Linked DNA regions of Homo sapiens. The protein of the gene in region 7 purifies or fractionates together with the protein of the main gene of each other region. This does not show direct contact. Each region holds a gene or a part of one and is shown on either strand. Other genes may lie near its edges. The genes, in order: SFXN2, NFXL1, CTNNA2, ARL8B, SOAT1, SLCO4A1 and LRRN4CL.

Region 1 (4,048 bases), on a different chromosome or scaffold from region 7:
TCTCTAGAGACCCATAGACAGCAAGGGAGATAAGAACAAGGACACCAGAAGAAAATTTAGCCTTTTATACCTATAGCTACAGCAAACAGTAAACATAGCCTAGATAAACAAAACCTCACCCCTCAGTTCCTCTCACAGGGTACATCATGTCCAGCTTTCAGTGAAAAATTACAAGGCATACTAAAAAGAAAAAAAAAAAAAACGCAGTTTGAAGAAACAGGCCAAGTATCAGAATCAGATTTAGATATGAGATTTTAGAATTATCAGACCAGGAATTTTAAATAACTATGGTTAAAATTAATTAATTAATTAATTACAACGATGGTTAATATTCTAAGGACTCTGAAGGGAAAAGTGGACAACAGACAAGAACAGACAAATAACATAAGCAGTGATGGAAAATCTTTTTTTTTTTGAGACGGAGTCTTGCTCTGCCACCAGGCTGGAGTACAATGGCACGATCTCGGCTCACTTCAACCTCTGCCTCCCGTGTTCAAGTGGTTCTCCTGCCTCAGCCTCCCAAGTAGCTGAGACTACAGGCGTGCACCACCATGCCCAGCTATTTTTTGTATTTTTAGTAGAGATGGGGTTTCACCATGTTAGCCAGGATGGTCTCGATCTCCTGACCTCGTGATCCGCCCACCTCGGCCTCCCAAAGTGCTGGGATTACAGGCGTGAGCCACCACGTCCAGCCGGAAACTCTTAAGAAAGAATCAAAAGGAAATGTTGGAAATCAAAAATACTGTAACAAAGATGAAGAAAGTCTTGGATGGACTCATCAGTAGACTGGACATGGCCAGGGAAAGAATCAGTGAGCCTGAACACGTGTCAGTAGAAATTGTCCAAATGCAAAAGGCCCATCCATGGCAGACTGGATAAAGAAAATGTGGTATATGTACACCATGGAATACTATGCAGCCACAAAAAAGAACGAGATCACGTCCTTTGCAGGGACATGGATGAAGATGGAGGCCATTATCCTTAGCAAACTAATGCAGGAACAGAAAACCAAATATCACATTTATAAGTAAGAAAACCAAATATCTCACTTAAAAGTGGGAGCTAAATGATAAGAACACATGGACACAAAAACGGGAGCAACAGACCCCACTGGGGCTCACTTGAGGGTGAAGGGTGGGAGGAGGGAGAGGATCAGAAAAAATAACTAATGGGTACTAAACTTAGTAGCTGGGTGATGAAACAATCTGTACAACCCCAGTGACACAAGTTTACCTATGTAACAAACCTGCACGTGTACCCCTGAATCTAAAGTAAAAGTTAAAACAAAAAAAAGAAACAAATAATATTAATGCAATTATACTAATAGAAGGGCTTGGACTCAGATCCTCCATACACAAATTCTGTCTCTCATTGAGAAACACTGAGTCTGTGGTGGTAGGGATGGTGTGGGAATGTTGGTCTTCCTAGATCATTGGAATTACTATTTGGGGATGCATACCATCTGATTCTGTTAGTCGTTACCCATTTCCACCTATCCCATATCTTACAGAAGAATCATCTCAAGTACTAACTGCTTTATATCCCTTAAAACATTTCTAGTTGGGGCCAGGCGCAGTGGCTCACACCTGTAATCCCAACACTTTGGGAGGCCGAGGCGGTTGGATCACCTGAGGTCGGGAGTTTGAGACCAGCCTGACCAAGACGGTGAAACCCCATCTCTACTAAAAATACAAAAATTAGCCGGGCGCAGTGGCAGGTGCCCGTTATCTCAGCAATTCGGGAGGCTGAGGCAGGAGAATCGCTTGTACCTGGGCAGCAGAGGTTGCAGTGAGCCGAGATCACGCCACTGCACTCAAGCCTGGGTGACAGAGTGAGACTCTGTCAAAAAAAAAAAACAAAACTTTCTAGTCGGCCAGGCATGGTAGCTCACATCTGTAATCTCAGCACTTTGGAGGCCAAGGCCGGTGGACCACCTGAGGTCAAAAGTTTGAGACCAGCCTGGCCAACATGGTGAAACCTCATTTTGTATTTTTTTTTCTACCAAAAAATAGAAAAATTAGCCAGGTGTGGTGGTGCACACCTGCAGTCCCAGCTACTGGGGAGGCTGATGTGGGAGGAATGCTTGAGCCCAGGAGGCGGAGGCTGCAGTGAGCCAAGATCAAGCCACTGCACTCCAGCCTGGGTGACAGAGTAAGACCCTGTCTCAAAAAAAAAAAAAAAAAAAAAAAAGGACTTTCTTGGACAAACAAAACAGGAAATTTGTCACTGGCAGACCTGACTTACAAGATGTTAAAAGAAGTTCTTCTGGTCAGGTGGGATGGTTCACACCTATAATCCCAGCACTTTGGCAGGCCAAGGCAGGAGCATCGCTTGAGCCCAGGAGTTTGAGACCAGTCTGGGCAACAGAGTGAGACCCTGTCTCTATAAAAATTAAAAAAGAAAAAAACATAGCCAGGCGTGGTTGCATGTGCCTGTGGTCCCAGCTACTTGGGAGGCTGAGGTGCGGGGACTGCTTGAGTCTGGGAGGCTAAGGCTAAGCCTGCAGTGAACTGTGATCGTGCCACTGCACTCCAGCCTGCACGACAGAGTGAGACCCTGTCTGGGAAAAAACACTAACAAACAAACAAATAAAAATCTTTATTTCTCTTATTCTGAACTGTTAACAGTTAACAAACAGATACGTTTGTTTAAAACAATAGTAGCAACAATGTATTTGGTGATTACAGTTTATGGATCAGAGAAATCCATGACAGCAGTAATATCAAGGACAGGAGGGGAGAATTGGGAGGACTCCATTCTAAGGTACTTGCACACTCCATGCAGTGGTATAGTGTTATTTGAAAGTGGATTTGGATTAGTCATAAATGTACATTGCAGACTCCTGGGCAACCACTAAAAAGGTTTTCAAAAGAAGTATAATTGATATGCTAAGAGAGGAGAGAAAATGGAGTCATACAAAAAAAGCTGACGCTTTTAAATGTTTGCCTGAAAGCTTCAGGGAGTCATTGAAAGACTTTAAGAAGAAGAGTGACAAGATCAGATATGTAGTTTACTAAGAACAAACTGGGTAGTCATGAGAATAAACAGGATGTGGATGGACCTCACGGGATGCAGGGAGACCAGCTGGACGAGAACCCCAGTAATCCAGGCAAGAAGAGGTAGGGCTCAAATGAACCCACGTGCACTCAGAGGAGAGACCAACAGGAGAGAATCTTTCAAAGAAGCGGAATGTTAAGGTCTGCTAAGCAATAGGTATAAGAGGAACATTTTATCAGTCAAGGTTCAACCAGAGAAGCAGAATCAGTAGATTACAGACAGACAGACAGGTAGATACCAAAACATAACATGGGGCAACATGGAGTTCCTCTAACTCCTGAGCTCAAGCAATCTGCCTGCCTTGGCCTCCCAAAGTGCCAGGATTACAGGTGTGTGCCACTGCACCTGGCTATGACACACACATATACATATTTTATATATTTCTAAAATATATTTGTATACTATAATATATATTTTCTAAATATATAAATTATATAACTATATAAATATATAATTTTTTAAATTTATAGATATAGCAACATATATTTATAATATATAAATTTATATATACATTTATTTATATAGACATGAATTACGTTTAAATATAACATATAAAAATAATATATAAACATAAATAATTCATATAGCTATATAAAATCATATATAAATATATAACTTTATATGTTATAAATATATGTTGATCTATCTATATAGATTTTATAATTTTTTCTTCTTTTTTTAGGCAGGGTCTCAGCTGGTTGCCCAGGGTAGAGTGGAGTGGTGCAATCATAGCTCACTGTAATCTCAAACTCCTGGGCTCAAGGAATCCTCCCATCTCATCCTCCCTAAGTGCTGGGATTACAGGCATGCACCACTCCTGGCCTAAATATATATAATGCTGACGTAATATAATATTGATAAAATATAGAAATTGATTTATCACAAGGAATTAGCGAATTGGCTCACATAACTGTGGCTGTTGGCTAGGCAATCCTGAAGTCAGCAGGGCAGGCGGCCAGCAACAGACCATCCCAGGGGAGAGGGAGCAACG
Region 2 (4,048 bases), on a different chromosome or scaffold from region 7:
ATAGATCAGTTCATTCTCAAAAGATGCTCTAACCTTAACTCCCAAATGAGTATAGTTAGTATATTATGCTAGAACAAGTTTCATATTAACATTTAAATTTCTTTTGTATCATATACAAAATATTTTCATTGTCACGAGAACATGTTCTGTTTCCAAATAAATGCCACATAAATACTCAAAATAACCAAAAGATATTTGTTCTTGTAATGAAAAATCAAAAACAAAATACTAAGTTCATCTGTCTGTGGAATAAGTAACTGGCGCTTTGTTGGAAGAGTTCAATTTTTTTTTATTAAAAGAAAAAGCTAGTGTGGAGGGGGATATGTATTTTTAATAAGCGTGGGTATGGATGACTAATAGGCAACTCAACATACCTTAACACTGCCCATCAGCATTGAAACTGAACTGGCCCAGTGAGGGTAATATGTGCAAACGCATGAGTTTTATTTTAAATAATGGGATGCCAACAATGAAATGTAATTATGCTAGATCTTCTTCATTAAAAAGCAGTATCTTAGTAGAAACCTATATTTTAAATTTTTTATTTCCATAAAATAACTTAAAATTATTAACATTTTACCAAGTTCTAGCTCCATCTTGATGAGGATTAAACAAAATGGGTTCTTAACCAGAATGGTCATTTATTTTCTTAAAAAAATATGAAATATGGAATGCAAAGTATATGGCACAGCTGATTAAACTGTTGTTCCTTTTAAATTAGAAGTTAACAGTACATTTTTTTTAACTGATCCTTTCCTCCTCTGTGGCAAAACGACTACTTAAAACAGAAGTGAGAAGAGCGAGGGTAAAAAAATATATACATAAGGTTTAAATCTCTAAACTAAAACCTGGCTTAATTCCGTACCTATTAGACACTAAAATTCCTCCACCACCAGTAAATAATATGCAGGAGCAAAACAAATATACTTTGAAATGTTAAACAGTTTCCAAAAAGTGTGTATTCAATGAAAAGAAAAATAATATTTCTAAAAGCCAGGTCATAAGAGATAACTCAGGTGGAAGAATAGAAAAAGCACTGAATTTAAAAGTAAGAAATCCTAGGTTTCAAATTTTGGCTCCACTACTTAAGAGTGAGGAGTCAGAAGTCATTTCCCTTCAATTAACTTCAATATCCCCACTGGTAACAGGAGAATAAAATCTCTCACAGATTGCTGAGAATTATTTTTACATACTCTTCTAAAAGTAACTAGCACATCTAAATGTTTTTAAAAACTACACCACTGGCCAGACGCAGTGGCTCATGCCTGTAATCTCAGCACTTTGAGGGGCCAAGGTGGGTGGATCACTTGAGGCCAGAAGTTCAAGACCAGCCTGGCCAACATGGTGAAACCCCATCTCTACTAAAAATACAAAACTTAGCCAGGCATGGTGGCAGGCACCTGTAATCCCACCTACTCTGGAGGCTGAGACGGGAGAATCGCTTGAACCCGACAAGCAGTGGCTACAGCGAGCCAAGAGCGCACCACTGCACTCCAGCCTGGGCAATACAGCAAAACTCTGTCTCAAAAAAAATTAAAATTAAAATAAAAAAAAAATTTAAACATAAAATTAGTTACTAAAGTTACAAAATGTGACCACACAGAGCCCATGAAGCTTATGCTTCATTACTTTGACAGTCAATCTACCTCTCTGGGCAGCCAATATGAATAAATTTCTTATTGTCTTTACTTAGCAGAGATATAAAATTCTACTCTCCAACTCTTTCTGGAAATATAACAAAAGTTCTCCAGATCAAATAATCATCAATAATAAGCAAAACTAATAAATGTAAAAAAATGATATTGTATAATATACACCTGCAGTTTTGAGATTTGGGAGGATAAAACTGGGAATCTTATAATCAAAATACATTAAATGATAGTCTTGTACAATGTAATAATAATGCATACTCATAGAATTCTGGACAAGAAGATCACAATTATGAATGATTCTCAGTCCTAAAGAAAATTGAAAGTCCTTTCAAAGGATAATTAAGGAATTGTTTTGCACAGGAAAAATTAAGTCTGGATGATTTATTAGTTATCAAAAGGAACTAGTAGTTATAGAAATTCAAATTGAAAAAAACAAGACTTTATCAAGATTCCACATCTTCACACACCAAATGACTAATTAAAAGCCCAACATGGATATTGAAACCACCAATAAAGCAACTTAGAATCTACAATCTTCATTTATTCTACAATTTAATAATCCAATTAGGCCAGGCGTGGTGGCGTGCCAGCCTAGTTGGCACTTTGGGATTTTTTGGGGTGGGTCACCTGAGGTCAGGAGTTCAAGACCAGCCTGGCAGACATGGTGAAACCCTGTGTCTACTAAAAATACAAAAAATTAGCCAGGCATAGTGACAGGTGCCTATAATCCCAGCTACTCAGGAGGCTGAGACAGGAGAATCTCTTGAACCCAGGAGGTGGAGGTTGCAGTGAGCCAAGATCGCCACTGCACTCCAGCCTGCGTGACAAGAGCAAAACTCCATCTGAAAATAATAATAATAATCCAACTAATTAGAAAAAGTTACCAAGGCCAGGGACAATCTTTCTTTCCAAAATCATCATCAGTCACAGAAGATACAAGAAACTGGCTGTCTTTAGCCCACTTCTGGATACAGGGCATGTGAAATATACAGAAACATCCCGAACAGCTCCAAACCTAAGACAAATGTATCAGAAGTTAATATATGTTAATTTTTCTTTGTTAATTGTAAAATAATTTAAAATGAGTATCACACTAAACTATTTTCAAGAGCTACCTAAGGATTAAAGAAAAAAGGTCTTTCCTTCCAGTATAACAGAAGAACTGTTTCATGGGAAATGCATTTAAATGTAGGATACTTCGAAGAAAATTATTATTAGTCAAACAGATTCATTCAGCTAGAAATAATTACTGCTAACATTCTGGACAATCTCCAAATTTATATATATATATTTTTTTCATACTTTTAAAAAATGAGGTCATACTATAATAACTGAAATGTAACTTTATAGTCTTTTCTATAAGCATATTTATAGCTATACATTACACCATGTAGACTTACGTACTTAAATTTCTTGTTGGATGATTATTTCCAAGTATAAATAACACTACAAAAGAATCTTTAAACATAAATATGTACATATATCTCTACACAGCCCTTTTGTTATATAAAACCTATTAGTCTAACACCTAACTAATGCTAAATTCTAAAAATTAGGTAATCAAAAAACAAGAATATACATAATTTAAAAGCTTAAGAAATAATACTAAATTAATTTTTAAAACCTGCCAAACACTTTGATAAAACTGATAAAAATCAGTTCCCCTTTCCTTATAACATTTTACAACTGTTTGATAAAATCAGACATGTAGCATATCGCATGAGCTAACAACAGCATTAAACAGCCGACTTCTTAGTTTGGGTTACCCCCAAAGCGGTATCTAAGAACTTGGATGCAGGAGTAAGGGGACTAGACAGGGAAAAAGAAATAACCAATGAATGGCATATGGTTGAGCTGATTACCACTAAGGGCCACAGAAGCTCAATCCTCCAGGGGACCCTCTGTAAAACCATGTAAAACACGCCTTGGACTGCCCAGCCCCACTCGCTAATGGAAAGGAGGTTGGGGCATTCACCTACCAACTCCCTGTGGTGCAATGTTGCTGCAAGGGGCTTTAACTCCCCAGTGCTTCTGCACTATACCCATGTACTAGCTAAGTCAATTTCCAAGAACAAAATTGAGAGGCGGAAAAAACGCACACACACAGCAAATGTTTAAAGTGGGTTTCTATCTGCATGCAGAGACTATGCATTCCCTGCAGCTGAAATCAGAGTAAACCAACTAGATGTGACTCTAGGCACAAAAGGCATCTGTATCTGCTATACTCTTCTACCCAACCAGAGCATGTTAAATTTCTGATTCACTCTACATGACCAAACTATTTCATCTGACTTGATTTGCTTTCTCTAGGCAATGCTGCTATAATAGCAGTGAATTAATCTAAGGTCTAAATGTTGAGTCTTTCACATTCAGTAATCACTTCTTAATTGCTTCAT
Region 3 (3,663 bases), on a different chromosome or scaffold from region 7:
GCAAATTAATGAAGCAGGCTAGTTATCTGTGATCTAATGATTAGTGTTGAAAATCAGTGTACGGCTTCCGTGGTGTCTCCTCTACTGAAATGTTCTCAGTCTTGGTGGTGTTATTTTCCAGTAGTAGTAAGCAGGGGTTTGAGAAGAATCATTTCTAAATAAGATTTTAGATTAAGCTTTTTCTCCTTCCACAACTCCCTTATAGCTCCTTCCCTTTGGGATCTTGCACATAAGCTTAGGTGTTCATAACTCCCATTGTGTTATCATCACTTCTTTGCTAAGAAAGAAACATGCATATTTACTAGAAGCCTTTTGGAGACATGGTAATGTGATAACTTGTAGCAATCATTCCAATGAGAGGAGTTTGGAGAATTCAGGTGACTATTTGGGGACTTTTTCTCCATTTCTCAGTTCATAGTTGAAATACTATCACCACTTTTTAATAATGGGACAGAGGTCCTGTTTTTCCAACTTACTTAAAAGGAAAAAGTCTAAAATGAGTAAAATATTTTTAAATTAATTGGCTCTTCTATTACAAAGAAAGACTGTCATTTTCAATGCAGTATGAAAGTGAATGAAAACAAGTGGAAAAACAAACCACAAAATAAATATGTGAACTCTAAAAATGACAATTATTTGGATATCATCTATTTTATTACTAATCTCTAAAATTTTATTACTAATCTCTAAAAACCAAAACATAATGCATTTTTTTAATGAATTTTCAGGAAGATGATGCTCTAATCTTTATTAAGTACATACTTAAAAAATTAAAAAAGAAAACATACTTGAGATGTCAAGATTAAATGTGTTTATTTTGAGTTAGTTAGTGAATACAATGGTATATTAGATACCAGCACTCCAAGCTACACCTATGTATTTGCCTCTAACTTTCACACGTTGTCAGTTTCCTTCCCTCTAATATTCCACCACTGGGCCTTCTATTTCTAGCAAAATCATGGTTCAAATTAAAAAGAAAAAAAAATGAAAGCAAGATTGGTCACCGTATTGTGCTTCCAGTGCCCCCAGAAGGATTTTAATTGTCTCAAATAGATGTTTATTGTTTTCATTAAAGGGGGGAAAAAAACATGATCACTAGTAATGGCACAACTAGAAGAGGAAACAGAATGCAGATTAAAAGAAGCATTTTAGGCTGGACTAGTTAATTTCCCCTCAGTTAAAAATCGACATAATATCACGGATATAGACTTCAAGGTTAAATTGTTCAATTCATGGGCCACACACTTAAGCGTATTGGCTAGTACATTTTTGCACTGAAACAGAAGCAATACAAGTTTTATGTTCTACCATTACACTTCCAGATTTTTCACTTATGCATATACCTGCCAACCTAATGATTCTTGCATGCATTAGAGTTTGCTTTTGTAGAGTTAAGTTTATTTTCCCCATCCCTCCCACTCCCATAAATATTGCGCCAATGCGAACTCTGTGCCCAATTTTATGAGAATGTTGCAAAGGACAGCTCTGTGCCACCTTAGTACAGGAATGTCCTGTCTCCTTCCCAGGCTACAGATGGATCAGTAGTATTGATCTCATCTCATCTTACATGCAAACAGACACTGTTCCCTTAATTTCCCCATGCCAGAGGCATACGAGCTGGCAGGTATGCATACAAAAATGGAATTAAAAAGAAAAAGAAAGAAAGAAAAGAAAGAAAAAGCTTTCTTGTTAAAACCTATCGTCCTAGAAGGAATCCATTGCTTTGAATTCACTTAAAGCCTGTACAGGCGAAATGTGTTTCTTCTGAGAACCTCGTCGAACTCGTGTCTGGAATTCTTCAGGCTTTTCTCTCTTCACAAGGGGCTTCTTCTCTGGAGCCTTCATCTTCCAAGACACAACAGGTGAGTTGACAGCTGCTGTCCCATAGACCTTCTGGTATTTGGTTGAGGCCACATAGGATGCTTTCACCGTGAGGACAACAGCATTCATCAGGTTTTTAGCTGCCTGGATAAGCGATGTGGCACTGTCCAGCTAGAGTAGGAAAAGAATGAGATACATGTGGGTTAATGGAGGCCCCAAATTCACAAAATGGTGATGTACTTTCACGGTTAAAATAATGTTTTCCTTGTGCAAATAAATAGTATTGCTGAAAAGGAGCAAATTATCACAAGTTAAGGTTTTTAAAATCTCAATACAGCTAATGGCAAAGCCCTCATCTTAGCAGGTAGGAATTCCAAGGTAACAAAAGTTTTCCAAAGTAGAACATCTCATATTATTACATTAGGGTAATTAGCAATGGTGACATTTACTCAAATGTTGGACAAGCATTTGGCAGACACTAAAGAAAAAAAGTTATAAGGGGTTACCTCTCAATTTTATGGCCCAAGAAATGGAAGTATCTATCTATAGGCTATTTCTGTATCTTGAGCTCAGGGTTGGTGAGGATACAGTCATTTAGGCAGAAGAACAATCCATGGGTGTTCTTGCTTCTATGAGGTGTTAATTGAGCTTGGAGTATCAATTTAACTATTAACAGGTCCTCAGTATACCTCCTATATAAATACTGATACTTATGTCAGGATCTCATAGCATTCAGTGAGACCTTCTCATACATGCATTAATGAAATATTCAGTATTTACTATGTGCCAAATACTATTATGAGAAATTTGTATTTTCCCACTTAGCTCTTGTTAACAACTCTATAATATAGGCATTATCGTCATGCCCTTTTAGAATGAGAGAGCTGATACATGCAGAGGTCCAGTAACTAGCACAGGTTTTAGTCTTTAAAGATACTACTCATCTGTACTGTCACCTTGTTGGATAGGATGGCTTTTAAAAATGCCAAGACAAGTCACAACTTGAGAATAGGTTTAGAGGCCCATCACCAGACTTTTAGGCCAGGAATATTTTGGGTTACCTTTTTTCTGTCTTTAAGTAGTTAGTGTGGTATGTACTGTATACTAGATCATTCAATATCTTCTTCAACCTTCTTGCTTCACTGCCTGCATCACAGATGCTGGGGTTATGTCTCAATGTTATAGCCCAACCAATGGAAGTACCTATTTATCTATACACTATTTCTATATCCTGAGCTCAGGATTGGTGAGGCTCAAAAATGCATTTCCTAGACTCTCCATCAGCCAGGAGTCTACATGTGAGCTAGTGAAAGAAAAGAATTAACAGCTGAACTGCAAATATCATTCCAGCCTCAGGGATGTTTGAGCATAGTCTGATCTTTCATCAAACTTCTTGTAACATCAACTAATGAGATATATCAATTACAGTTAACTGAAGGAAGCAAAGATGTTCTTAAGTATGCTGTTCCTAGTTGGAGAGATTATTTGTTGTGTAGCCTGTAATTCATGAACTTCATGAACTGTAGCTGCATTAAGCCTTCTGGGGGCTAGGTGACTAAGAAAGTGTTTAAACTGAGAGACTGTAGATCTTATGGTTCTTCCATCTGACGTGACTGGCATTCACTTTAGCTTCGTATCATTTCTTATTAACAAAATATGTCCCACGCAGTATTGAGGTTATCAGAAGTTGTATCTAACACAACTGTGATACTGTTCCTTTGGCTGCTTTTTGTTCCATATCCCTTATTTAAGCTAAATTAATGTTGCGCTGTGTTTTTAAAAATGTCAATCAAATGAGCTCAATTTTTCCATCACCAGAAAAGCTTGTAGTCTGACCATTGG
Region 4 (4,048 bases), on a different chromosome or scaffold from region 7:
AACCTGCACTTGACTAAATCTGGAACTTCATTAGATGAGCCACAGAGAAAGTGAACAGCTTCTGTAAACCACAATAATTGGGCAAAATGGACATTAAGGCTCAGGCCATAGATTTGATTTTTGAAAAACAAAATAGATTAAAAATCTATTCTTGGCCAGGCGTGGTGGCTCACGCCTGGAATCCCAGCACTTTGGGGAGGCCGTAGCAGGCAGATCATTTGAGGTTAGGAGTTGAGACGAGCCTAACCAACATGGTGAAACCCTGTCTCTACTAAAAGTACAAAAAATTAGCTGGGTGTGGTGGCACAAGCCTGTCATCTTAGCTATTTTGGAGGCTGAGGCAGGAGAATCACTTGAACCGGGAGGTAGAGGTTGCAGTGAGTGGAGATCGCGACACTGCACTCCAGCCTGGGTGAAAGAGCAAAACTCTGTTTCCAAAAAAAAAACAAAAAAACAACAACAAAAAAACCTATTCTTTTGAAACATGCACATTCATTACTGAAAAACTGCAAATTTTCAGTAAAAACACAGAAATTTAACAGAAAAATTTCTAGGGGTCTGTGCTAACAATTTAAATTGCGTACGGCAAGAAATAACTTACCTTTATTGTGACGTTACCTTTAGTTACCTTCCTCATGTTGAAGCCCACTGTGGGTATCATATCTTCACTGAATTGACCTGACTGAACAAAATAAAACATTTGAAGTTAGGCTACTCACTTATAATGACACTGCATAAACTTCTAATATCAACATTGCATTTGTAACCATTTTAGTAAATATTTTTTTACCATTGGTAACAATCTACTTTAAGAACATGTTCCTTATGGCCATAATTCTTGAAGAGATGCATTATTTTGTCCCAACAAAGATATATTCTTCCATCTAAAAAAGATATTTTTGAAACTAATGTAATTTTTTACATATTTCCTTATGCTAAAAGAATTTTATATGACAAATACATACGAAAATTTTTAAATGTGTTCACCTAGATGTACATTTCCACAAAGTAGATGAGATCAGAAATAAAACTTTCAGCATTTAAATTATTCTGACAGTAACTATTAAAATTCACTGCTAAACAGCATTTCCAAGTCTGTCTTTTAATAAGGCTTATAAAATATTTTGTCATACAGAAGTTTTTCCTTTTATGTAATCAATTTTGTTCTCTTTTTGGTTACTTATCTCAATGTCATGAGTATTGTCTGCTATGGCCTTATGCTAGCCACATACACATGTATTCCAAAATTGTCTTAAATCTTGAGCACAACGAATTCCAACTGTACAAATAACTTCCTATACAGAACTCGAATTGTGCCTCTTTTAACTGTTCAGTGGAGTTTTATTAACTTCAGAAAAAATGTTAACACAGCCATAGTCACTACTTTCACTTATATAAGACATTATAATTCTCAGGACTTTCACATATGTGATTATATGTGAAAATCTAGTCATTCTATCTAAACTAGTTATATCAAAAGTAAGCCATGATAAAAGATAAATGGCCAATGAACTCATGAAAAGACGTTCGACTCACTAATCATTAGGGAAATGCAAATCAAACCCACAAAGAGATACCACCTAACATCCAGTAGGATGGCTACTATTAAGAGGAAAAGAAAAAAAACAGAAAGCACTGGAAAGAATGCAGAGAAATAGGAACTCTTGTATACTGCTGGCAGGAAGGCAAAATGGTATAGCTGCTATGAAAAATGGTATAGCAGTTCCTGAAAAACCTAAAAATAGAATTATCATATGATCCAGCAATTCAACTTCTGAATATACACTCAAAAGAAATGAAGACATTTTGCTAAATGAAATGAGCCAGAAGTCTCACACACTCACACACACACACACACACACACACACACACACACACAAACACTGTATTTCACTTTATGAGGTACCTAAAATAGTCAAATTCATAAAGACAGAAGATATTAATTTGCTTAATGGGTATGGAGTTTCAGTTTGAAAAGATAACAAATTTCTAGAAGTGGACAGTGGTGATGGTTACACAATGTGAATGTACTTAACACTACTGAATTGCACACTTAAAAATGACTAAGATGATACTTTGTGTTTTATGTATTTTACCAAAATTTTTAAAAAACTAGTCATCATACAGGGAGGGACAATTATCATTATCATTTCATAGAACAGGTAGTAGAGTCCCAAGGTCACATGGCTAAATCGTGATTATATTTTTCTTAAATATTTTCATTGTAATTATATTTATTGTGATAGGCTTTAATCTCTGAGGAGAGATCTACGTGAGATAATGCTCATTTATTTCATATCATTAAGTGTTTTACATAATGAAGAGGCAGGAAAAATAGTAGCTAAAATTTTTAGGTACCAAACTTTACAACTAGCTTGCATGGAAAGCTTTCTAAAAGGCAATATACACTTGGCTAACTTCCCACAAACAACCTATAGAACATGATTTAATGTGTTCTCAATGTTTCTGGGTCAGTTTATCTATTGCAAAACAAGAAAACTAAATTAGATAACACTCAAGGGCCCTCCCTATTGGAGGTAAAGTTTTATGATTATGAACATCAACTACAGCACTTCATAATAAAATAATGTAGGGGGCTGCAGTATACTGGGGTACCCCCGAGCTTTCTCAGGGGTTCATTTATCTCTTTTCTTTACCTTGGCCAACCCTAACAACTTTCCTGTAACTCAGCTGCTACTGCTAACATGCAAAAACCGAAAATTAGCTAATCAAGTCCTTGAGTTTTTACTCCAAAATTCTTGAGTAGAGCAAGATATTCAATAAATATTTGTTGAACAAACTAAGAGTTATTAGGGCCAGGCATAGTGGCTCAAGCTTGTAATTCCAGCACTTTGGGAGGCTGAGACAGGCAGGTTGCTGCGGCCCAGGAGTTCAAGACTAGCCTGGGTGACACGGCAAAACCTTCTCTCTACAAATACAAAAATTAGCCAGGCATGGTTATATGCACCTGTAGTCCCAGCTACTAGGGAGGCTGAGGTGGGAGGATTGCTTGAGCCTGGGAGGTGGAGGTTGAGATCTTAAGAACGATATGACTTTAAGACAAGATTGTGCCACTGTACTCCAGCCTAGACAATAGAGTGAGAGCATGTCTCAAAAAAAACATAGGCCATGAAGGAGGAAAATGCTGGAACTCTTCTGCCAATAAAGTGCTTAACTTTGATGCATGAATTTTGTGCAATAATTACTTTATGGACCTGGAAGTATTTTCTACTTCTTTCCTAGTGTCCAATCTTAATCATCACTTTTCAAAGCTTGTGTTGAACAACTATAACCACTCAGTTGGCAACTGGGCACTAGATACCTGAGAATTTATGTCTGAGCTGTCAAGAAGCTGCTTAATTAAGACTACAGGTTTGGGAAACAGATGTTTAGAAAATACTACTTAGTAGTATATCATTCTACTTATTTTAACAAATTTAACAAACACGTAATACTAAGCACTTAACATTCATCAGCATAGTTTAATCCTTATAACAACCCAATGAAATGAGTAGCATTATCTTCATTTCTCAGATGAGAAAAACAAGGCAAAGTCAGCTTAAGTCACTTGCCTAAAGTCACATTGTTCTTAAGATCTGGATAATTATGAGTTAATCTGACTTGGGGGGGAAAGAGTAGAAAAATAAAAGTAAGTAGTCCCTCCTTATCCTTGGGGGATACGTTCCAAGAACCCCAGTGGATGCCTGACATCACAGATAGAACCTAACCCTATGTACACTATGTTTTTCCCAATACATACATACCTATGATAAAGCTTAATTTATAAATTAGGCACAGTACTCTTCTGCTTTAGAGTCATTATTATTTCAGAGGTTGATCATAGGTAACTGAAACTGGAAAGCAAAACCATGGATAAGAGGGACTACTGTATGCTTTCATGCCTGCCTTCTTAAATGCCATGATCACACGTGGCACTCGCTGTGATTCTGTGATGGCAGATGGAGCTGTCACTGTCATAATGCTTACCCTCCTATAAGCCAAAGTTGCAAGGCAGTGTACCTGGAACTTGGTTGAACAAAATAAATCT
Region 5 (4,048 bases), on a different chromosome or scaffold from region 7:
AATCTAAGGGTGATGTGGCAAAGTTCTTTACCTGGAGTAGGCACTCAGTATTTGTGATACAGATTTATGGGCTCTTTTGAAAGCTGTATTAATGGGAACACGGAGGCAGGCTAAAGTTGACATGTCTTTCCAAGTTCATTTGTTTCTCAAATCATTTCTTTTTGTTTTGCTTTCTTAAGATAAGTTAGATGCTTATCACACTGAACATTATGTAATTGCGTGCACAGATTAGATTCTTAAGAAATTCTTTTTCAATCAGTGTGTTGTATAAATAGCTGTCTACTTAGCTTTGTTACCTGGGGGGGAATAGCTTTATGTTACCTGTGACTTTGAACAAGTTTGTTAGCATTTCTGAATCTCCTGCATCTTTAAAAATGGACATGTTAAATGAGATATGTGCTACACCTACTGCACTCAGCACTTTGTTACCTGCTTCCTAAACGCTAGAGATTCCTTCACTGCTAGACCTCTTGAGAGACTAGTCTTATGATCACTGTTTTCACTTCCTCAACTTACTGGCGGTGTACTCCAATATATTTATTTGTCCTTCCTCCTAAAACTGTGCATGTAATCAAATCATAGCTATTAATGTCCCCCAATTGTGAAATATCCCATGTCCTGTCCTTTTCTTTTCTTTTTTGAGACGGAGTCCAGCTCTGTCACCCAGGCTGGAGTGCAGTGGCGCGATCTCGGCTCACTGCAACCTCCGCCTCCTGGGTTCAAGCAATTCTCTGCTTCGGCCTCCCGAGTAGCTGGGATTACAGGCACCTGCCATCACCCCTGGCTAATTTTTTGTATTTTTAGTAGAGACGGGGTTTCATCATCTTGGCCAGGCCAGTCTAGAATTCCTGACCTTGTGATCCACCCGCCTCAGCCTCCCAAAGTGCTGGGATTACAGGCGTGAGCCGGTGCGCTTGTTTAAGAAACAGTGGAAGGCCAAAGTAATGAGTAGAGAAAATGAGACAGCCAAGATCATGCCACTGCACTTCAACCTGGGCGACATGGCATGACTCCGTCTCAAAAAAAAAAAAAAAATGCCGGGCGCGGTGGCTCACACCTGTAATCCCAGCACTTTGGGAGGCCGAGGCAGGCGGATCACCTGAGGTTGGGAGTTCGACACCCCATCTCTACTAAAAATACAAAATTAGCTGGGTGTGGTGGCCTGTAACCCCAGCTGCTCCAGAGGCTGAGGCAGGAGAATCGCTTGAATCCAGGAGGCGGAGGTTGCGGTGAGCTGAGATCGTGCCATTGCACTCCAGTCTGACCAACAAGAGTGAAACTCTGTCTCAAAAAAAAAAAAAGATTGATGGTGTTTAAGGGGGTGGTGGTGAGTGGCAGGCAATGCAGAAGTTACTAGATCATGGTAAGGACTTAGGATGTTTGAAGGGGTTTAAGTTGTGAAGTGACTTGATCTAACTTGAGTGCAATGGTGTGATTGAGGTTCACTGCAACCTCCACCTCCGGGTTCAAGCGATTCTTCTGCCTCAGCCTCCTGAGTAGCTGGGACTACAGGTGCCTGCCACCACACCTGGCTAATTTTTTGTATTTTTAGTAGAGACGAGGTTTCACCGTGCTAGGCTAGCCAGGATGGTCTCGATCTCCTGACCTGGTGATCTGCCCACCTCGGCCTCCCAAAGTGCTGGGATTACAGATGTATTCCACCATGCCCGGCCCTGTTTTAGCTTTTGATGTAAGGTTTCCTCTAGAGTAGCTTGATGGTTGAGGAACCATCTTATTACCAAGGACTCCCTTTTTATATTTCTTCTTTTGGAGACAGGGTTTCACTCTGTTGTCTGGGCTGGAGTGCAGAGGTGCGACCTGTGCTCACTGCAACCTTCGCCTCCTGGGTTCAAGTGATTTTCCTGCCTCAGCCTCCTGAGTAGATGGGATTACAGGTGCTTGCCACCACGCCGGGCTAAATGTTTTTTGGGTAGTTTTAGCCTAGTGTACCTTAAATATGCTCCAAACACTTAATATTAGCCTACAGTTGGGCAAAATTATTGAACACAGACTATTTTACAATAAAGTGTTCATTATCTCATGTAATTTATTGAATACTATACTGAAAGTGAAAAACAGAATAGTTGTATGAGTACTCAAAATATGATTTCCACAGAATGCATGTTGCTTTTGCACCATCATAAAGTTGAAAAATTTTAAATTGAACCATCATAAGTTGGGGACTGTCTTGTGCTTAGAATAATTGGTTACATATTAACTGATACATTTGCTTTCTTTCTTAATGCCTGCCTGTTGTACTCCAGGTACTCCACACTAGATTTGGGGGAGTCTTACAGAAAATACTATGTAATCCCTATCTTTGAGAACTTAAGCCTAATGTAAGAGACAGAGAGTATTGCTCTCTGATTATAGGACAATGTAACATGTGACAGGATGCTCAGTGTAGTGGGACCGCAGAGAGGATGAGATGAGAGGTGGTGGTAAAGGAAACTTCAGAGGGTGAGTTGGAGGCGGTTTAGCGATTAGAGGGCAGGTTGTAGAATCTGATAGTCTTTGTTTTGAATTCTAGTTCTGCTGTTGGAGAATTATTTGATTTGGGACAAGTTAAATCACTTCCCTAAACTCATCTGTAAAATGAGGATAATACTTATCTAAGGTTGTAAAGATTAAATGTAATGTAAAAAGTTTAGCAGCACAGTGCCTAGAGGTACATAATAGGTGCTCATTAAATCAGAACTGTTGGTATTAATTCTATTACTGCTGTAGCTGTGATTCTTTGAAGGCTTGAGTAGGAGTTAGCTACATAAAAAAAGGGCAGAGGAGAAATAGCTTTCTATAGACAGGGAAGAGTATATGGGACACTATGGTGGCCAAAGAATATTTGGAAAATAACAATAGTATCTGTCTTGATTCTGTTGAGATGAAAATAATACATGTAAAACACATAAGCACTAAAAAAAATCAGCTGTTATTATTCTACTTTGAGAAATATTGCATTGTGCTATACTGTTTCATATGGCTTGGGTAATAAACTTTAATCTGGCATTTATTTTTTAATCATTTTGCTATCTTTTTTTTTTTTTTTTTTTTTTTTTTGAGACGGAGTCTTGCTCTGTTGCCCAGGCTGGAGTACAGTGGTGTGATCTCAGCTCACTGCAAGCTCCGCCTCCTGGGTTCATGCCATTCTCCTGCCTCAGCCTCCCGAGTAGCTGGGACTACAGGCGCCTGCCCCCATGCCCAGCTAATTTTTTTTTTTTTTGTATTTTTCGTAGAGATGGGGTTTCACTGTATTAGCCAGGATGGTCTTGATCTCCTGACTTCATGATCTGCCCACCTCAGCCTCCCAAAGTGCTGGGATTACAGGCATGAGCCACCGCACCCGGCTTCATTTTGCTGTCTTTTATGCTTTAAACTTTTGCTATATGCTCTTTAAAAGAGTATCTACTTTAAATTCCCCATCATCTGGCCAGAAAAAAAAAGTCTCTGTTCATCTGGCCAGAAAAAAAAAAATTCCCATTATTCCTTGTAAAATTCCTCTCTTACTGAAACATCTTGGTTCCTTTTGTGTCTTTCTTTTTCTTCCCTGATTTCCTCTACTTTGAGGCTGTCCCTCAAAGTTTAGTTTTCAGTTCTTACTTCTCTCATCATTTCTGATGAAGAGATAGATGCTCTTGTGGCTTCCTCTGTCACTTTTACACAGAATTGGACCATTGTAAGTTGGGCATCGTCTTGTGATTTATTAGCCCTGACTTTTCCCTTAAGTTCCTCTTAATTAGATCTTATGATATCATAACATTTCTACTTGATATATTCATCTGCTGTTCCACAATTGTTTCATTTGTTTGATTTCAGAAATAATTAGAAGAAAGCCGATCTAGATTTGTCAGATTTTTACTTTGCCAAGCTGTGATAGTTGAAAAACAACCAAACCCACCATGTACTATATTTCATCCTTTTATACAGAAAAGGATATTTTAGTACAAAAATTAAGAAAAACTGTAGTCTCAGAATTTAAATATATATAGCTTTAAAATAATGTAATGAGTATTTCACAGTTGTTTTCTTCTTGCTTTAGACTCTTGAAAAC
Region 6 (4,048 bases), on a different chromosome or scaffold from region 7:
AGCGGTGTGGCGTCAGGGCTGTGACGGGGGCAAGGCCTACTGAGATGGGGCCACGCGGTGGAGAGTGGAGCTGAGACGCAGAGGCCGAGTCAGACACTGGGGTCCCAGGTCACCCCGCCCTGGCCCCGCTCGCTGTGTCAGCCACGTCCCCTGCCATTTGCAGCCAAGTGGCCCTGATGGACTCCACCTTGGTCCTGGAGCCTGACCTTGTTCTTCCTTAAGTTCACACCCGGCAGCTCTCTGCACCCTTTGGCGTGAGGAAGGAGCTCCTCTCCGTGCAGAGTTTGGGAGGTGCAGGAATGAGCTGGAAGCAGCCTCCTGGGCCACGTGAGCCCCCAGCACCGGAAACACCCCCGGCCGCCAAGCTCCGGCCGCTGCTGGGTCAGCCTGTGGCTAACAGGAGTTGCAGTCGGCAGCCATGTAGACCAGTTACCAGGAGAACGTGCCCACGTGCCACCTTCCTTCTGAACCCTGCGCTGCCCCTGCCCCACTGCCCTCACCAGCCCTGTTCCCCACCATCCCGAGGCTCCACAGGGCACCGCCTCACTCCCCACACCAATTCCTGGAGCAACAGCTCCCCCCTACTGCCCAAGGCCTTCTGGGGAACCCAGGTGGCTGTAGCCTCTCTGCATCTTAAGGGCTTTCCCCGTCAGAAATAAACCGGCGAATAAACAGGGCTGCTATGATGCGGAACACCTGTGCCGCCCCCGCCCTGGGAGGGTCCTTCCCGGGGCTGCTGTGATACAGAACACCTGTGCCGCCCCCACCCTGGGAGGGTCCTTCCCGGGGCTGCTGTGATACAGAACACCTGTGCCGCCCCCACCCTGGGAGGGTCCTTCCCGGGGCTGCTGTGATACAGAACACCTGTGCCGCCCCCACCCTGGGAGGGTCTTTCTCGCAGACCTCAAGGTGCTTGCCATCTGGGGCACCTCCTGTTATGGCTGAATTGTGACCCCTAAAAGAAGCTGTCTTGGAGCCTTGACCCCAATACCTCCGAATATGACAGTTTTTGAAACTCAGGCCTTTAAAGAGGTGACTAAGGTTAAACAGGGACATTGGGTGGGCCCTGATCCAATCTGACCGGTGTCCATATTATAAAAAGGGAATGTGGATGTGCAGACCATTCCCCTGCCCGGGAGGGAGGCCGGAAGTAGCTCCTTCCCTCACAGCCTCCGAGGGGGGCCGGCCTTGCAGACACCATGATCCCTGATTTCTGGTCCTCAGCAGTAAGAGAGGGCCCGTTTCTGTTGTCTAAGTCCACAGTCTGGGGTCTTTTGTCTTCACTGTGGAGCTAAGGTGGGGTGGGCGGTGGCGTGTCCATATTGGGCCACATTGTATCACATTCAACAGGGACCCCGGCGCTTCTGGAAGCTTATTCAGCCCACGAAACATCACAACCTGGGAGGCTCCAAAACACAAAGCGTGAGAAATGCTGCCCACTGACATCAGGCTGAGGCCGGGGCCACATCAGCCATGCTCAGGGCTCTGCAGAGTCCGAAGCCCTAAGTATCCGGCCTTGGGGTCTCCTTCCAGCCACAGCCGGCGACGCGCAGAGATGCACGGAGATGCAGGGACAGCAGGCAGTCCCGTGGGGACCTGGGCTGGGTGATACCCCAGGATCCTCCTGGCAGCTCCTCACAGAGTCTGCTCACTGGGCCTGCGCTGGGGCTGGGGTGGGCGGACCGGTGCCCCCCGTGTTCCCCGGGCAGTCACGTTCACCTGGGACCTGAGCGCATGACCTTATTTGGAAAAAGCGTCTTTGCAGATGTGACAAGTGATCTGAGAAGAGATCATCCTGGATTAGGGTGGGCCCTAAACCCGGTGACAGGTGCATTTTTAGAGGAGAAGATGACACAGAGAAGGCCACCTGCAGACAGAGACAGAGACGGGCGTGGCGCTCTCAGGACCACCTGGAGCCCCGGGAGCCACTGGGGGCAGGAAGGACCCTCCTCAGAGCCCCAGGGGGAGCACAGCCTGTGTGGACTTTGGGTTCCTGGCCTCCGGAGCTGGTGGGAATAAACTATTTTTTTTTATTATTATACTTTAAGTTCTAGGGTACATGTGCACAACATGCAGGTTTGTTACATATGTATACATGTGCCATGTTGGTGTGCTGCACCCATTAACTCATCATTTACATTAGGTTTATCTCCTAATGCTATCCCTCCCCCCTCCCCCCACCCCATGGCAGGCCCCGGGGTGTGATGTTCCCTGCCCTGTGTCCAAGCGTTCTCATTGTTCAATTTCCACCTATGAGTGAGAACATGCAGTGTTTGGCTGGGAATAAACTATTTTTTAAGCCCTTTGGTGTGTGGTCATTTCTTACAGCAGCCCCCACGGAGGCAAACAGGTGTCACATATGCCCCCGAATTTGGGAGATGACAGAGGCCTGAGGAGGGCCCAGAGAGATGACCTTGGGGTTGAGGCAGAGTTAGAGCTTAACAGACACACTAACTCTAAGGTCAGCGTGGCGGGTGGGAGCGGAGGCGCAGCCGGTGATCCGCCATGGGGCTGCGAGGGGACACAGGGGCCTCAGTGAGAACCAGCCCCGGGACAGGCCTATGCTGACAGACACTACAGCATTTGGGGATGACAAATTGCTGGCTTTTTTTGTTTTGTTTTGTTTTTTAATAAAGGGGCAACTTCATCTGTGAAGGCAGATAAACCGGGCCCAGCATGGTCAGGCCGGGAGCAGGCCATGGGATCTCCCCCAGGTCCAGGCAAGGCTTGTTTTACGTCTGGAGAGATCTGGCGGTACCAGCACCCCTTCCCCAAGGCCACAGGGATCTCAGGATTGAGCCCCCAAAGCTGGGCTCTGGGTCCTCCCGCCACGTCCTCTGCCGAGGCGCGGTCCCCACAGGGCTCCTCTGTGGAATCGGAGGTCTCGCCCTCTCAGCGAATGGATGCCTCAGCCCCAGGCTCCTTGGGACGAAGGCGGGCAGCTGCTGTGAAGAATCCCGCTGGGTGGCAGGGTGCTAACACCCGCTGTGCACACTGAGCACCAGCTGTGTACCAGGCACCGTCCCAGGCCTCACAGTAGGGGAAGAAGGCCCAGGGGGGTCAGTCATTTGCTCGAGGCCACACAGCCCGCCGGTGGCAATGAGGATGCAGCCCCCGCAGTCTGGCCCCAGAGCCAAGCGTCTGCGTCACAGCTGCCTTCTGACACCTACTGAAAGAGCCGTGCACGCTCGTGTGGCACTCACGTGCAGCCGCTGTTGACCTTGGACACTGCCGGGAGGCTGTTTGAGGCCGTATTTGGAGGCCTCGGACAGCAGAGATTCCACAGCATTCATGCCTGGGGCCTGCTCCCTGGGTGCCCGCGGCCACACCCGGGGGTTTATTTACAATGCCAACACCTATCCACGAGCTGGCAGGCCAGGCTGGTTTGGGACCTGCTGCGTCAGAAAGGGAGTGTGCGTGGAAGGAGAGACATTCATATTGTAAGAGCAATGCTCCACGCCTCCCCAAGGGGCAGAGAGCCACCCACGGCCACCCACGAGCCACAGGCTTTCTACTGAAGCGAGCTGTCACAAGGATGACGTCCCAGGAGCATGTGTAACACAAGAACTCGAATGCCAGGAGTCAGCGGAAAAGCCGGAGGAGCAAGAGCCCCGGGGCGGGACTGACGAGGAGGCGCAAGGGCTCCACCGGCCGCCGGCCGCCGAAACAGAAAGCAACCTCAGAGGCCCGGAGGAGGACAGGCCAGGCTCAGAGCCACGCAGACTCCCCAGGCAGCCTGTGGGTGTGTTTCCCTCGCATTGTTTTTCTTAGTGCAGGAACACAGAGCCAAGAACTACCCTGAGGACTGCCTGGAGGTCAAGGTCCACCCACACACACAAACACGTGCACACGCACACACATAAATAGCAGAAACTTGACCTCATTTCCGGGCTGGGCCAGAACATGAAGGGAAGGAGCCTCAACAGGGCCAAGGAACAGCCTGACGCAGGCGGGAGAGTGCTCAGAGGTTCCGCCTAGCTGCACGTGCTGGCACGGGGAGGGGGGCCGAGCGGGGGTGGGGGGTGTGGGGCGGGGCAGGGTGGGGGAG
Region 7 (4,502 bases):
CTGTCCGAGGAGGAGAAACCAGATCAGCAGCCCCTGAGCGGAGAAGAGGAGCTAGAGCCTGAGGCCAGTGATGGTGAGGGGCATCCTGCAGCGTGACCTGGGTGGGGCCCCCGGTTAATCTAATATCCCATTTGAGATTTTGTTTTTCCCTTTCCTGGCCCAGGTTCAGGCTCCTGGGAAGATGCAGCTTTGCTGACGGAGGCCAACCTGCCTGCTCCTGCTCCTGCTTCTGCTTCTGCCCCTGTCCTAGAGACTCTGGGCAGCTCTGAACCTGCTGGGGGTGCTCTCCGACAGCGCCCCACCTGCTCTAGTTCCTGAAGAAAAGGGGCAGACTCCTCACATTCCAGCACTTTCCCACCTGACTCCTCTCCCCTCGTTTTTCCTTCAATAAACTATTTTGTGTCAGCTTCTTCCTTGACTCTGAAATGGGTTCAGGGCCATTTGAACACCCTGTGTCCCCCATGCATCTCTCACTTTCCGCCATTAGAGGGGAGGTCTTCTTGTCCAGGGGAAGGCCTCCAGACCTGGGCTATTTTAAGCACAGATGTTTCCATTCATAAGCCTAGGAAGTCCAAGGAGGGAGAAGCTATCCTGGCCCCTAGCAAGCTTTCCCACTCCCTGCATGTGACTTTCATCTCCCCCAGAGGAGGGGGATGGTGTAGGGCAGGTCTGCAGAGCTGGGAGACATCATTCTGGCCCCCTCTACACCCCTCCCTTCCTCCCTTCCTCCCTTTCTCTGTCCATTGGGAGGCAGAAGACAGGAAATGACTGCCATGGATGTGGTAGGATTTTTACCAAAACAGCATTTTGCGGCTCAGGCCCGTGCTGTTCGCAGCTGTTTTCCTCTAATATCAGCCAGGTGGCCGCCTTCTATGTTCCCCTCCCCATCCCGTTGTATGACTTCAGCCTTCGGATTCTAAGCTCCTGGCTGCTTTCCACATTCCACTCCCCTTCCAGAACCCAGGCATCCTGGGCTCCAGCTGAAACCATTGCATGTGGCTTTCCCCATCCCTGGCCCCGTGACTCAGTCCCTCTGAAGGGAGCAGCCCTCTTTTTTGGCAATCACCAGGGAGGTGGGGGGAGGAGGAGGGGAGCTAGGTGGTGACATCACAGTCGAAGGTTATAAAAGCTTCCAGCCAAACGGCATTGAAGTTGAAGATACAACCTGACAGCACAGCCTGAGATCTTGGGGATCCCTCAGCCTAACACCCACAGACGTCAGCTGGTGGATTCCCGCTGCATCAAGGCCTACCCACTGGTGAGGAGCTGCTATGGGCCAGAGAGGAGGAGGGAGGCATGCAGGGGCCAGGACTCCTTGGACAGGATTTGCACAGATAGCAGGTGGGGAGGGAGGATTCCAGCGTCCCTATTTTTTTCTCTTGTTTTCAAAAAATACAGCTGTGCTTACAATATTTCTCCATTCTGTTCTCTTTTCTCAACTCTGTCTCCTTTCTGGGTTTTTGCCTGTGTCACTGACGGATACATGTTTTTGTTGAGTTGAGGTCTCACTCTTGTCACCCAGGCTGGAGTGTTGTGGGGCGATCATGGTTCACTGCAGCCTTGAACTCCTGGGCTCAAGTGATCCTCCTGAGTAGCAGGGACCACAGGCATGTGCAGTATATTTTTAATGTTTTTTAACTTTTTAATAATTTTTAAATACTTTTTAATTTTTGTAGAGATGGGGTCTCTCTGTGTTGCCCCAGCTGGTTTGGAATCCTGGCCTCAAGCAATCCTCTTGCCTTGACTTCCCCAAAGTGTTGGGATTATAGGCATCAGCCTAGGGGCCCGGCTTTGTTACTTGTTTTGCTTAGATCTTTTCTCTGGGTGGCAGCTAGTAAATATCCTACCGTTCTTCCCTGGGCTAAGTAAATCATGTCCTCCTCTTCTCTCCCTCAGCACTTTGTTTATTCATTAACTGTTTCTAATACTTAACACATGCTGATCATGCATCTGTCTCATGTGTCAGATCATGTTTTATTTTTTGTCTGAAACCAAGCACACAGCCTGGACTCAGAAGTTGGTTGACAAATGAGTGTGTCTGCCTCATTCCAACTTCTTTCCTCTTCTGATCCCCAGTTGCATTTTCCTGTCTCCAGAGATTGTGTCCAGGCAGAGGGCATGGCAGGCTTTTGGGCTGAACAGGCTTTATCTATCCACCCCTTCCCTTCCAGTCTCCATGCTGGGCTCTCCCTGCCTTCTGTGGCTCCTGGCCGTGACCTTCTTGGTTCCCAGAGCTCAGCCCTTGGCCCCTCAAGACTTTGAAGAAGAGGAGGCAGATGAGACTGAGACGGCGTGGCCGCCTTTGCCGGCTGTCCCCTGCGACTACGACCACTGCCGACACCTGCAGGTGCCCTGCAAGGAGCTACAGAGGGTCGGGCCGGCGGCCTGCCTGTGCCCAGGACTCTCCAGCCCCGCCCAGCCGCCCGACCCGCCGCGCATGGGAGAAGTGCGCATTGCGGCCGAAGAGGGCCGCGCAGTGGTCCACTGGTGTGCCCCCTTCTCCCCGGTCCTCCACTACTGGCTGCTGCTTTGGGACGGCAGCGAGGCTGCGCAGAAGGGGCCCCCGCTGAACGCTACGGTCCGCAGAGCCGAACTGAAGGGGCTGAAGCCAGGGGGCATTTATGTCGTTTGCGTAGTGGCCGCTAACGAGGCCGGGGCAAGCCGCGTGCCCCAGGCTGGAGGAGAGGGCCTCGAGGGGGCCGACATCCCTGCCTTCGGGCCTTGCAGCCGCCTTGCGGTGCCGCCCAACCCCCGCACTCTGGTCCACGCGGCCGTCGGGGTGGGCACGGCCCTGGCCCTGCTAAGCTGTGCCGCCCTGGTGTGGCACTTCTGCCTGCGCGATCGCTGGGGCTGCCCGCGCCGAGCCGCCGCCCGAGCCGCAGGGGCGCTCTGAAAGGGGCCTGGGGGCATCTCGGGCACAGACAGCCCCACCTGGGGCGCTCAGCCTGGCCCCCGGGAAAGAGGAAAACCCGCTGCCTCCAGGGAGGGCTGGACGGCGAGCTGGGAGCCAGCCCCAGGCTCCAGGGCCACGGCGGAGTCATGGTTCTCAGGACTGAGCGCTTGTTTAGGTCCGGTACTTGGCGCTTTGTTTCCTGGCTGAGGTCTGGGAAGGAATAGAAAGGGGCCCCCAATTTTTTTTTAAGCGGCCAGATAATAAATAATGTAACCTTTGCGGTTTAAGAGGATAAAATGGAGGATATTATTATGTGGGTATTTATATGACCTTTGTAACCATTTAAAAATGTAAAAACGACCTGACTTAGTAATGCGAACCTATAGTAGCAGCTACTCCAGAGGCTGAAATGGGAGGATCTCTTGAGCCCAGGAGTTGGAGTCCAGTCCAGCCAGGGCAACACAGCCAGACGCCCTTGTTTTTTATTTTGTTTTGTTTTGGTTTTTTGTTTTTTGAGGAGTTTCCCTCTGTCACACAAGCTGGAGGGCAATGGCGCCATCTCAGCTCACTGCAACGTCCACCTCCTGGGTTCAAGCGATTCTCCTGCCTCAGCATCCTAATTAGTTGGGATTACAGGCGCCCACCACCATGCCCGGCTAATTTTTGTGTTTTTTTAGTAGAGACGGGGTTTCACCATGTTGTCAGGCTGGTCTCAAACTCCTGACCTCAGGTACTCCACCCGCCTTGGTCTCTCAAAGTGCTGGGATTACAGGCATAAGCCACTGTGCCCAGGCAGACCCCCTTCTTTAAAGATGTAAAACCCGGCCGGGCGCGGTGGCTCACGCCTGTAATCCCAGCACTTTGGGAGGCTGAGGCGGGCAGATCACGAAGTCAGGAGATCGAGACCATCCTGGCTAACACGGTGAAACCCCGTCTCTACTAAAAATACAAAAATTAGCCGGGCATGGTGGTGGGTACCTGTAGTCCCAGCTACTCCGGAGGCTGAGGCAGGAGAATGGCGTGAACCCGGGAGGCGGATCTTGCAGTGAGCGGAGATTGCACCACTGCACTCCAGCCTGGGTGACAGAGCAAGACTCCCTCTCAAAAGAAAAAGAAAAAAGATGTAAAAACCATTCTTAGTTTGTGGGCCTTACAAATCAGGCCACTGGCCCATTGCTTGTAGTTAGTTGATCCATGTCATGCACCCTAAAAATGGCTCTGTCACTGTGAGTGGCTTCAGTAGGATTTTGAGAATAAGTTTATATTCTTGCTAGGTAAAACAAAACAAAAACGACAGTAATACCAAGGAATCTCCCCCCCCTTTTACCCTCCATTTGTGTTTATTGCATATCCACTATAACAACATTAAAGGACCTTTAAAAGGAAGTAATTTTTATTGTTTATGATTCCTTTCAAGTCACTGTCCACACACCCATTTTTCAGAGTAATATACATACTTTTGATTTTTTTTTTGTTTTTGAGATGGAGTCTCACTCTGTTGCCCAGGCTAGAGTGCAGTGGCACGATCTCAGCTCACTGCAATCTCCGCCTCCTGGGTTCAACTGATTTTCCTGCCTCAGCTTCCCAAGTAGCTGGGACTACAGGCGTG

Evidence for each region.
Region 1: the proteins of LRRN4CL (region 7) and SFXN2 purify together in Homo sapiens (affinity purification with mass spectrometry; one large-scale study listed by BioGRID and IntAct). This does not show direct contact.
Region 2: the proteins of LRRN4CL (region 7) and NFXL1 purify together in Homo sapiens (affinity purification with mass spectrometry; one large-scale study listed by BioGRID and IntAct). This does not show direct contact.
Region 3: the proteins of LRRN4CL (region 7) and CTNNA2 purify together in Homo sapiens (affinity purification with mass spectrometry; one large-scale study listed by BioGRID and IntAct). This does not show direct contact.
Region 4: the proteins of LRRN4CL (region 7) and ARL8B purify together in Homo sapiens (affinity purification with mass spectrometry; one large-scale study listed by BioGRID and IntAct). This does not show direct contact.
Region 5: the proteins of LRRN4CL (region 7) and SOAT1 purify together in Homo sapiens (affinity purification with mass spectrometry; one large-scale study listed by BioGRID and IntAct). This does not show direct contact.
Region 6: the proteins of LRRN4CL (region 7) and SLCO4A1 purify together in Homo sapiens (affinity purification with mass spectrometry; one large-scale study listed by BioGRID and IntAct). This does not show direct contact.

Annotation. Positions count from the first base shown.
Region 1 is NC_000010.11:102,721,068-102,725,115, reverse strand, and holds part of SFXN2 (sideroflexin-2), read right to left. Parts: intron 181-4,048; exon of another isoform or gene 149-180; coding exon of another isoform or gene 120-148; intron 31-119; exon of another isoform or gene 1-30. UniProt on the Homo sapiens protein: Mitochondrial amino-acid transporter that mediates transport of serine into mitochondria. Involved in mitochondrial iron homeostasis by regulating heme biosynthesis.
Region 2 is NC_000004.12:47,900,657-47,904,704, forward strand, and holds part of NFXL1 (NF-X1-type zinc finger protein NFXL1), read right to left. Parts: intron 2,668-4,048; coding exon 2,537-2,667; intron 1-2,536.
Region 3 is NC_000002.12:80,645,914-80,649,576, reverse strand, and holds the end of CTNNA2 (catenin alpha-2), read right to left. Parts: intron 1,993-3,663; coding exon 1,705-1,992; 3' UTR 797-1,704; downstream 1-796. UniProt on the Homo sapiens protein: May function as a linker between cadherin adhesion receptors and the cytoskeleton to regulate cell-cell adhesion and differentiation in the nervous system. Required for proper regulation of cortical neuronal migration and neurite growth.
Region 4 is NC_000003.12:5,167,137-5,171,184, reverse strand, and holds part of ARL8B (ADP-ribosylation factor-like protein 8B), read right to left. Parts: intron 683-4,048; coding exon 602-682; intron 1-601. UniProt on the Homo sapiens protein: Small GTPase which cycles between active GTP-bound and inactive GDP-bound states.
Region 5 is NC_000001.11:179,296,715-179,300,762, forward strand, and holds part of SOAT1 (sterol O-acyltransferase 1), read left to right. Parts: intron 1-4,048.
Region 6 is NC_000020.11:62,652,027-62,656,074, reverse strand, and holds part of SLCO4A1 (solute carrier organic anion transporter family member 4A1), read right to left. Parts: exon of another isoform or gene 3,889-4,048; intron 1-3,888. UniProt on the Homo sapiens protein: Organic anion antiporter with apparent broad substrate specificity.
Region 7 is NC_000011.10:62,686,183-62,690,684, reverse strand, and holds LRRN4CL (LRRN4 C-terminal-like protein precursor), read left to right. Parts: upstream 1-1,154; 5' UTR 1,155-1,258; intron 1,259-2,171; 5' UTR 2,172-2,176; coding exon 2,177-2,893; 3' UTR 2,894-4,279; downstream 4,280-4,502. Other genes in the region: BSCL2 (seipin), read left to right, coding at 1-73, 164-318.